Regions from separate parts of the Homo sapiens genome. Here region 2 is linked to region 1. The links come from fine-mapping of genetic effects on gene expression. Tissue or cell type: whole blood. Region 1 holds a variant in brackets; the other region holds the start of a gene. All regions are shown on one strand. Distances are between the middles of the regions.

Region 1 (5,702 bases):
TTTCACCAACTATGATCAGAAGATCTCCTGATGGCTGAGGATCTCTAAGCCCCTTTCCCATGTAGATAATGAAATAGATATGAAATAGATTCTCAGTTCTAGGAGACATGGTATTTGCTATAGACCACATTATTAAGTGGGAAAGAAGTGGACAAAACATGCCCCCAATCCAACTTCTTAGCTCTTTCATAGGACATGAAACAGTAAGTTAAGAAACAGACTGCAGTATAGACCAGCTATGAGGCCAACAGAAAGTGTAGGGGCTGAGTTTGGAGCAGCCAACAGTCATGGAAAAAAAAAAATTACTTTGATCTTCATCCCTACCCTGGGAGTTTTAAAAAGCTTCAAATTACCACATCTAAACACTAAAGGGAACAAAAGAGTGTGTACTCCCAAGACCCAGAGCCCCCAGCCCACCCTTCAGCATTCCCAGAAGTTCCCATAACTGATACCAGGCCCTGCTTCCATTACTTCAACTACCTTAGTCTTCTAGATTAATACAGCCTTCTTCATTTTCCCCAGTTCTCCCTCACTGAACCCAAATCTCTCTCAGCTCAACACCATAGCACCCTCAGTTCTTTTTACAATAGGCACTTTCCCTGAAAAGAACGCTTCTTACCCAACTAAGAACCCTTCTCAGGCCCTTCCAATGAACCTCTCTGCAGGGACCCAGCCCCAGTCACCCCCGGGGCTCGGGCGACAGGTCTGACCCTCCTCACCTCCCGGCAAATGGGCTTACCTCACCCGCTGCCCTGTTCCTTTCCCCAGCTCCTCCCTCTTCAGCGCTGCTTAATGAGGCCTGCCCCTGCCCTCACTCAAGCTCCAGGCCTCCAGCCCCCGGCCCTCGGCCTGGCCGCCGCCACAGCCCAGCCGCCTTCCCGACTCACCAACTTCGGGGTCCCAGGCCGCCCAGTCCCCTCCTCAGCGACCCCCATTAGGCCTGCCGGGGCCCGGCCCCCTTCTCCCCTCTCCGGTGGGCCACTCTAACCCCTCGCTTAGGACCAGACCCGCCTCCGCTCTCAGGCCAGGCTGCTCTCATCTCCCGGGCGCTTCCGCCCCTGCCCTTTGGGCTCCATCAGCTCGGTACCTGGGGCTCCGTCTCCCCCGTCGGCCCCAAGCCTGTGTCGAACAGACAAACAGCTGCAGCTCAACCAAACCCTCCTGCCCCTCCTTCTCCTCCTCGCCCTGGGGCGGGGCTCCAGCCAATAGCTCGATTACCCGCCTACCTTCGAGGGTGGGCTATATGTGCACTCATCCACCAATCCTCTGGAGAAAGGCGAGTCTCTTTGGGCGCTGTCACCAACAAGTACGAGCAAGGGACGCGACAGGCGGGGCCACAAGCCAATAGCGAGGGAGAAACCTCGAAGATGGACGAGGTAAGGAGCCATTAAAGAGCAAGCTCCTGAAGACAGGGGGCGGTACACTGCCGACAGGCGTATGTATCCACCAATAAAATCTCGACACCCCATGACCCCGCCTTTTGACTCATAAACATCTAATCAGGTGAGTGATGGAGGCGGGTCAAAGTGAAACTTTAACCAGTACTGCGAAAATACGGTACTTGACTGGCAGGCAAGGAGGGGTTGAAGGAAGCCTTAGGAAGGCCGCTACTGACCTTCGCCCCTCCCCCTGGACTTGGCTGGGGCTGGCTCTAGTGCCCTGCCTTCTATGACAAATTCGCGGGCGTAAAGGGAAATACCTCTTCTAGGGATCCGGAGCCTGGGAATTTAAGTAACCCTGACATCAGCGCTTCCTCCTTTTAGTGAGGCTTCAGTGGACAGGCGTATTTGGGGTGGCCGCGGGCGGTCTGAGATGTTTTTTGGTGGAATGAGACAATGGCAACTACAAGAAGTGGTAGCTTGGAGACGCTTTTTCAGAATCGTATGTAAATGTAAATAAAAGAATCTTTGGAAAACTTTTCTGTCTGTGATATGAAACAGAAAGGAAAAACGGCGGGCTTACTGGGAAATGCAGTGTCGAAAGGCAAATTCCCCGGGAGCCCTCTTCCTGCCGCTATGTATGTGCATGGGTGTGTGTATGTATGGGGTGTGTGTGCATATATGGTGTGTATGTGGTGTGTGTGTATTTGGTATATGTATACGTGGTGTGTGTGGTATATGTGTGTATATGATGTGTGTGTGGTGTGTGTATGTGATGTGTGTGTGGTGTGGTGTGTGTGTGGTATGTTGGCTGGGGGAAAGGAGGTTTGCTGGTGTGTGGAGAAAGTGAAGTAGGAAGTATATAGGCTTCAGTTTCCCCAGCCATAAATAGGGATGATAATAACCACTTTGTTCACCGTCAGCACTAGCCAAAATGGGGTGGGGTGGGCAGCCATGCACAGAGAGATTAGGAAAAGGGGTCTGAAATCAATGATCACATACACACATTCATATTCTGTCTCCCACCATTCTTTCAGTAAATAAGAGGAGGAAAGAGATGAACTATAAAACTAGGCACATTTTTTTAATGAGCTACAAACTAAATTACAAATAACGTTAATAGCAAGAGCACTCAAGGACAAGGGTGACAGAGACAAATCATAAAAAAAAAATGCTTTTTTTTTTTAGCACTGTCATTACAAAACCCCAAGGTGCACATGGCAACAAATCCACCCACTATGACCAAAAAAAAAAAAAAAAAGCCAACTCTACTATTGGATATAACCTGAAATATAAATATAATTGTTCATCCTTCTTTTAAAGAAATATTTTTACCCATGCCCTCACTCAATCACAGCCCTGAAAAAGTGTCAGCATTCTCAAAATGATGCCTAAACCCTAACTTCTAACTCCTATGGGGTAGGAGGTGGACGTCAGAGGAAAATGGGATCAGGGATCCTTGGCAACTGAACAACTAAGAATACTAAAAGGAAGAGAAAAATTCAAACATCTCTCACCTGCCTCATAAGGCCATGGTGAAGCAATAGATTGGAATGAAGCACAATCCCTGTCTCAGGGCCTCCCAGATTCCTCATGCCTGTAGAAGGGACAAACAAGGGGACTGGGGCCAATCATTTTTCTGCAGCCCCACCCGGGCTGAGTCTTCAGTCTCCCAGCCTATTAGGTGAGGCAAAACACTAACTAGGGTATAAACTGATTGGATCTATTTTTTCAACCGAATTCTTTAAAATAGACTCCTCCCAGTGGTTTTGTTTTACTTGGTTCTCAAAAGCACCAACTTAGCCCCCGCTATCATTTGGCCTTTATAAACATTGTGGCAGCAGGAGGCTTGGGATCCTGGTCATCCCAAACACTGGAAATAATAATTATGGGGCATTCAGAGATTGGTACGGCAAATCTAACGTGTAGGAA[G/T]GCTTTTTTAAAATTATTTTTATACCAACCCTCTTCAGCAATAACTAAGAGAAGGGGGAAAGGGTGGTGGAGGCTAACTTAAGTGCATCTAATACTGAAACTTCCTTTCATTTTCACTGGTTCCCCCCTTTCACCCCTGTATTCCCAGAGTTGGCTGGCCAAGACTAGAAGGTGAGTGTTTAAGGCAAGTTCAGAGGGCCCACCTGAGTCCAAATAGCCCAAGGCCAAGCCTGGTCAAGCCCACACTGGAGGAGAGGGTGAGATTAGGGCTGGGGGCTTCAAGAAGGCTATCAGAGTCGAAGATGGGGTACTGGCTTGGTCACATCCTGGAAGAAAGGGTGAGCCAGGGCTGCCTTGGCCGAAATCCGCTTGTTAGGGTCGTAGTGCAGCATTTGCTAGAGGGAGAGATGCATGTTGACTTCAATGATGTGATAGTGGACTAAATGGGCAGCAGGTGTTCCCAGAAATCAGGAAACCAGAACTCCTTCTACCCAAGGCAGAATTCTCACTTCCATCCTCCCATAGCTGAATCAGTGTGCCAACAGGGAGAGCAGGAACCAGGGAAATGAAACACTGAGGCCCAGATTTCAGGGTCTCATCCTTCCTTCATCCTGGAAAAGCCCTTCCCTGGGAGAAATGAATGAGGGAAAACAGGTGCCCACTCTCACCGATAACAAGCTCCGTCCATCTTCATCCAGGGGAGGTACAACTTTACTAAAATCTTGCCGGGCCCACTTGGGGAAACTTGGCTTGTAATCAGGCATAGAAGTAACTCCTGGCCACACCACCTCATCTGGGGTCCCCAGAGTCCGAAAGATCCGGAAGAGCTGGTCAATCTCAGAATCTCCAGGGAATAGGGCCCGGCGAGTCACCTGAAAATGGGGAAAGAGGAAATACCAAGACCCACGTTGACGTCAGTCAAAACTCTCCTCTATACAAAGGAGTTCCCACAGACAGTAAAAGGTCAGCAGGGCCCCATGACTCCCTCCCCAGGGCCTTTCATGGGGTCAGTCACACAGAACCTGAGACAATGAAGTTCCTTCATCTGTCTCCTCGCCCCCTCCTTCCTTCCCCCAACCATGGCTTTGCAGATCCCCAAGGCTGGGTGGGTCTGGGAGGGGGTGAATGTCTGGGGTGCCACTGACATGTAGCAAAGGTATCCCAAGCCACTCACGGGGTAGGGGGTAGACACTGCGGTCATCCCCCAACCTTGTGATGCAGCCACTTCTAGATACGAGCACAGCGGGCAGAGACTCTGTCTTCCATTTCTTCTGTGTTCCCCACAGCACCTAGCATGGTGCTGGGTACCCACTAGGTGCTTAACAAATATTTTTTGATGAATTGAGAGAGGAATACGGACAATTGTAAGGTAATGCACTGGGGGGATAAATGCACATTACATATGTATAGGCTAATGGTCTTTAAGCTCTTGGTTACAACCAAGATAAAAGACAATAAAACATATTGCTGATTTGAAGACAGCCTACTGCACCACTGTACTGTTATATTAAAGGAGATGGGAGCTTCTACATAAAGCCAGGCTTCAAGGATCCTTCAGTCTGAAAAGCCAGAGGTTGAAGGGGAACATGATCTAAATCTTTTTTTTTTTTTTTTTTTTTTTTTTTTTGAGATGGAATCTCATTCTGTCGCCCAGGCTGGAGTGCAGTGGTGCAATCTTGGTCACTGCAACCTCCATCTCCCGGGTTCAACCGATTCTCCTGCCTTGGCCTCCCAAGTAGCTGGGATTACAGGTGTGTAATCCCAAGTAGCCACACCTGGCTAATTTTTGTATTTTTAGTAGAGACAGGGTTTTAACATGTTGGCCAGGCTGGTCTCAAACTCCTGACCTCAGGTGATCCACCTACCTCAGCCTCCCAAAGTGCTGGTATTATAGGTGTGAGCCACTGCACCCTGCCTAAATCTGCAGTTTAAATGAAAGGTGTGGGTAAAGTGACCACAGTTGTCTTCACTACATTGCTGGCACCATACAACAAGGTCTACAAGCCTTGAAATGAAGGCCTGAAATAAAAGAGGCACTAAATGGAATCATTCTCCCAAATATATGCAGACTACAGCTAAAACAGCTGCAGAAATGCTTTAACTTATTTCAGGGATAAGAGATGTATACCAGGTACTAAGGCTGTTTGAGGATATCCTAACACTGTGGTTGATATCAGGGCAACAGTTGCATCCTTTCCCACCATTCCCCTTGGTGCTACTTTAGAGAGAGAACCCTGTGATAGAAGGGCCATAGGTCTGGGCCAAGAAGCAGTTCTGTTGTTCTTGGATGTGGGGAGGAGAGGGAGGGGGCTGGGTGGAACTTGGGCAAGCCTCCATACCATCTCAGCAAAGATGCAGCCCAGGCTCCAGATGTCCACAGCTGTGGAATAA
Region 2 (5,319 bases), 69 kb before region 1:
AATAAGCTTTCTTCCCCATGAAAATAATGTGTGTCACTTCACACTTGGTCTAACACACAAAATCCCCACCTTATCTGGCACAGATACACTTAACATGCAATATTAAGTACAATTTCCATTTTATTTTTCTCCAGAGAATAGCCTGTCTTCAGTCTTTAAGAACTCAGCTCCTTACATGGGCTTTGGTGGGGGACGTGGGGCAGCACCCTGAAAGACAAAGAAACAAAAGAGTAAATTAAAACCCATGGATCCAAGACTCCCTTCCCCCAAAGAACTTGACCACCATCCTCTCACAAACTGATGTATTCAGGCTACAAATGCATGGGAAGCTGATAGAGGTGGAGGGAGAACACTACTCTGCATCCTAAAAACCAATTCTGATTCTAACACTGCTTTGCAGTGTCTCTAAGCATGTTCAGGTGTGGGTCTCACCTGCCTTACAGCTTAACCTGAGGCACAGACCTTAATTTGATACCCCCTGCACCACAGGAGGAAGCAACTTTTTTTTTTTTTTAAGAGACAAGGTCTCACTTTTGCCCTGGCTGGAGCGCAAGTGGTATAATCATAGCTCACTGCAACCTCAAACTCCTGGGCTCAAGTGATCCTCCTGCCTCAGCCTCTCGAGCAGCCAGACTATAGGTTCACACTATCATGCTTGGCTTCCTTCTCAATATTTTTTGAAGAGATGGGGTCTTGAACTGCTGGTTTCTAGCAATCTTCTTGTCCCAGCCTCCCAAAGTGTTGAGGTTACAGGTATAGGACACCCTGACCCTCCAGGATGAAATTTTAACCATCACTCCCCTGGCTTCCATTCTCCTTTTAAAATACTCACCGCAGGTCTAAATCGGGGTGGGGGTGTTCGGTCCTTGCGGGCTTCACGAGATCGATTCCTGACTACTTTGCTGTGAATTGCACAACTCACACAGTAATGTAGCTTCACATACAGCTTGGGAAGCACATAGGCTAAGGAATAGAAAATAGAGTTATACTGGTATTATATACCTACCTTGCTTTTTTGTTACATGAATGAAGAGCACCTTACATGTTTACGTCAATTAAAACTAAACCTATTTAAATGCCTGTCGGGCACATAAAAGCACCCCCAAAGCACCTGTTCAGCCCAATACCTGAGCACATATGTATAACCCTCAGTTTTACAAGTGAATTAACATCCCACGTGAGTTCATCTTGACACCGCAAGGACCAGACTGACATTCTAAATGCAATAAACCAATAATCCAGTTCCTTCTACACCTACACCCGCCCTAATGCCTACCCTGAACCTTGCTCTTTCTATAAAAGGAAAAAAACAAAGCGACGTTCTTATTGCTCCAAACATCATCCTTGCACACCAAACTAGACGGCCTCCATTCTCGAAACGTTGAAGACATTCTTCCTCACCTGTATATTTTCACAAATATTCAAATAATCAATAGCACAAGAATTGTCAAATTTACCAAGTTTCTAGTTTTTGCAATCTCATAACCGAAACAGGCAAACCTTTACCTCAGAGTAAAGGCTGTGCACTCTATCACAAAGTCACCCTCTGCCCAGAAAAGAATCAAAACGGCAAACAAGAGAATTCTCTTCTACCAGTAACAACCTTAAATACGTGGAAATTGCCTGAGAGGCTCCAAAGAACAGAGCCTCCAAAAGGGCGAAGTTGGGCGAAGGCTTTAAGATACTGGGATCCTCACACAGTTCGCGCCGGTGACCCACTTACCATCGAAGACGCTCGCTTCAGAAATGTCCCTGACTGCTGCGGCCTCCACTATGTTTCGAATGACGAATTTCTTAATGGCCTTGTCCTTGGGCACGCATCGGGCACAGTTAGTGCAGCGAATAGGCTGCACGTGGCCGCGGCCCTTTTTGGCACGACCATTGTTCCTTCTTTTCTTTGTCTGCGACAGGATGGGAAAACTGTTAGGAAAACGGCGCAACTCACCCAGCCTCAGTCCCTTTCCGGCCACAAGCCGCACCGGCAGCCTCCAGGAAGGCGCCGCTCGGATCTCCTGTTTCTCCGCAAATCCCGCCGACCCCCAGAGCAAATGAAATGTACACTCGGTCCACCCCTCAGCCGTGCTCCAGGCTCTCACTTCCCCACAATCCCAGAGTCTGCACCCGAACCCCCACCCTCACCACGCAAGAAGACTCACCATCTTGGAGGCACGGACCGGAGAGAGGAGACGGTGCCTGGCAGGGCCCTCCTATATAGCATGAGATCCCTACGCGGACACCGGGAGAATCCTTAGGAGACGGGCTTCAAGAACGGCAACTCACTTTACTCAAATATTCCTTTACATTCAGCATTTCTGCTGAAATCTAGGGTGGAAATGCGTTCCTAGTGTTTATTTATCCATGGAACAAAGTGCACATGGGACTATTTAGCCGGATGGCGGAAGAAAATCGAGGTTATGTGTCTCCCAGCAAGCCTTGCGCCGCGCCGACTCGGAAGCAATTCTGGACGATGCAGTTTTCCGGTATACGCGACGCTAGGCGTGAAAGTTGCCAGACGCTGGACCACAAGGCGCACTCGTTATTAGAGGCCAGAGAGGGACAGATGCTTGGTGGGAATTGTAGTGCGAAGCCAAGAGGCTCCCCCCTCCCCCCCTTCCCCCCTGCCCCAAGTGCTTAGACCGAAGGCGGCGCTGCGCCACCGGGGGACGCCCTGGGCTCATTTCTCTGACAGTCCTTCTACTAGGTAGGTGTAGGATTACGAAGAGGAAGGCCTGAGAGGAAACAAGCATTTTGTGAATCCCTCCTTCCAATATGGAGAAAATCCCACAATGAAGTGCATTGAGGCTGGGGCTATTTCTCATTCATCTTTTTATCTCTGGCACAGTGCCTGGCCCTGTGGTAAGCGTCTTTATAAATATTAACTCATTTAACTTTGAGCAAGCCTATAGGTAGCTACTATTATTATCCTCACTTTAAAGATTGAAGAATTTAGCCCGGCCTGGTGGTGGGCGCCTGTAATCCCAGGTACTCAGGAGGCTAAGACAGGAGAATCTTGAACCTGGGAGGCGGAGTTTCCAGTGAGCCGAGATCGCGCCACTGCACTCTAGCCTGGGTAAAAAGATCGAAACTCTGTCTCAAAAATAAATAAATCAATTAAAAAAAAAGATTGAAGAACTGACGTGCAGTAGGTATTCTGGCTCCGCTGTACTATGCTGTATGTCACCTAACAAATGGATGGAGGAATAGCCTGGACTAATGACTTAAACGTTTTTCACCCAGATTCATAGCACGAATACATTTTACATTGGTACCCAGTACACACACAAACACGATTACATGCACATGCAAAACTGAAACACAAGCTTTATGAAACGATACTTACCCTTGTCATAGGTGTGCTGGTATGTTCTATTCTTTATTTTTACTTAATCTTTCTGTTCTCTATTTTAATAAATGCTGATCAAAAACCACGAAAATTATTTCACCACTCATTAGTGAATCTGACCCCTAATTGAAAGATTATGTGTAAGCTCCATTTACCTCTGAAGAGCCATCGGAAAGACTTAAGCCTTAGGCTGGGTGCAGTGGCTCACGCCTGTAATCCCAACACTTTGGGAGGCCAAGGCAGGCGGATCACCTGAGGTCAGGAGTTCAAGACCAGCCTAGTCAACATAGTGACACCCCACCTCTACTAAAAATATAAAAATTAGGCCTGGTGGCGCACACCTGTAATCCCAGCTACTCGGGAGACTGAGACAGGAGAATTGCTTGCACCCGGGAGGCAGAAGTTGCAGTGAGCTGAGATTGGGCTACTGTGCTACAGTCTGGGCAATAGAGCGAAACTCTGTCTCAAAAAAAAAAAAAAAAAAAGCAAGCAAGCTTCAGCCTGGCAGGAATGGCTGTCCACAGCCAACCACCCAGTTGTCTCCAAAGTTGAAGACACTAGGGTGGCAAGGGGACCTCCTAGCATTCAGACCCAGGATGGTACAGATGGAAACCATTGTTCATTTATGACTCACTCTAGAGTTTGAACACACCAGATTCACCTTCCCTCCAGCAACCCATCATGGTTTCTTTTAACCTTTAACCCACTTCTTGGGGCTAAAATCTGTTTTCTTACTTTCTTTTTTCTTTTCCTTTCTTTTTTTATTTTTATTTTTGAGACAGACTCTTGCTCTGTCACCCAGGCTGGAGTGCAGTGGTGCCATCTCAGCTCACAGCAACCTCTGCCTCCCGGGTTCAAGCGATTCTTCTGCCTCAGCCTCCCGAGTAGGTGGGACTACAGGTGGGCGCCACCATGCCCAGCTAATTTTTGTATTTTTAGTAGAGACAGGGTTTCACCATGTTGGCTGGGACAGTCCCGATCTCTTGACCTCGTGATCCATCCACCTCAGCCTCCCAAAGTGCTGGGATTATAGGTGTGAGCCACTGCACCCGGCCCCAGCTAATTTTTGTATTTTTAGTAGAGATAGGGTTTCGCCATGTTGCCCAGGCTGGTCTCGAACTCCTGAGCTCAGGATATCCACCCGACTCGGCCTCCCAAAGTGCTAGGATTACAGGCGTGAGCCACTGTGCCCAGACTTTTTTTTTTTTTTTTCAGATGGAGTCTTGCTCTGTTGCCTAGGCTGGAGTGCAGTGGTGCGATCTTGGCTCACTGCAACCTCCGCCTCCTGGGTTCAAGCGATTCTTCTGCCTCAGCCTCCCAAGTAGCTGGCACTACAGGCACGTACCACCATGCCCGGCTAATTTTTTGTATTTTAGTAGAGACGGAGTTTCACCATGTTGGCCACATGGTCTTGATCTCCTGACCTCGTGATCCGCCTGCCTCAGCCTCCCAGAGTGCCAGGATTACAGGCATGAGCCACTGTGCCCAGCGCTTTTTTTTCTTTTTTAAGATGGGTCTGGAGGCTGCAGTGGCATGATCACAGTTCAGTGCAGGCTTGACCTCCTGGGCTCAAGTGATCCTGCCGTCTCAGCTTTCCGAGTAGCTGGGACTACAGGCATGCACCACCATGCCTAGCTAATTTTAAAATTTCTTGTAGAGATGGTGTTGCCCTGTGTTGCTGAGGCTGTTCTCAAACTCCTAGGCTCAAGTGATCCTCCCAAGTAGCTGGGAGGACAGGTGTCCTCCACCACTTCCAGCTTTCCTGTCTGTTTTGACTTTGAATTTGCCAGTTTCAGTGGGACATGGAAAATAATAGACTCTAGATAGGAGTGTCTCTAATTTTCACTTCACTGTAATCTTGTGGAAAACAGAAGGCAGACATTACTATATGGAATAGCAATGAGGTAGATGGAAGAGAACATAAAAAAGTTCAGAGTGAAGAGAACAGAAAATAGTTACTATTTAAGACAGAAACA

What was found. PIP is the estimated chance that this variant, and not a neighbour inherited with it, causes the effect.
Region 2: RPS26 starts here. The variant in region 1 is fine-mapped to the expression of RPS26 in whole blood (INTERVAL, PIP above 0.99).

What each region holds. Positions count from the first base shown.
Region 1 is chr12:55,969,525-55,975,226 of GRCh38, reverse strand. It overlaps CDK2 (cyclin dependent kinase 2), which reads right to left. Exons shown (of 7, transcript NM_001798.5): 5 at 5,651-5,702; 6 at 3,980-4,183; 7 at 2,438-3,706. The coding sequence ends at 3,602. It overlaps RAB5B (RAB5B, member RAS oncogene family), which reads right to left and starts at 1,149. Exons shown (of 6, transcript NM_002868.4): 1 at 1,088-1,149. RefSeq lists an enhancer at 1,256-1,405. The variant G/T (reference allele first, on the strand shown) is at 3,312.
Region 2 is chr12:56,039,007-56,044,325 of GRCh38, reverse strand. It overlaps RPS26 (ribosomal protein S26), which reads right to left and starts at 2,408. Exons shown (of 4, transcript NM_001029.5): 1 at 2,157-2,408; 2 at 1,724-1,901; 3 at 833-963; 4 at 1-207. The coding sequence starts at 2,159. The coding sequence ends at 172. RefSeq lists enhancers at 1,720-1,979, 2,120-2,449, 1,898-2,687 and a silencer at 2,600-2,659.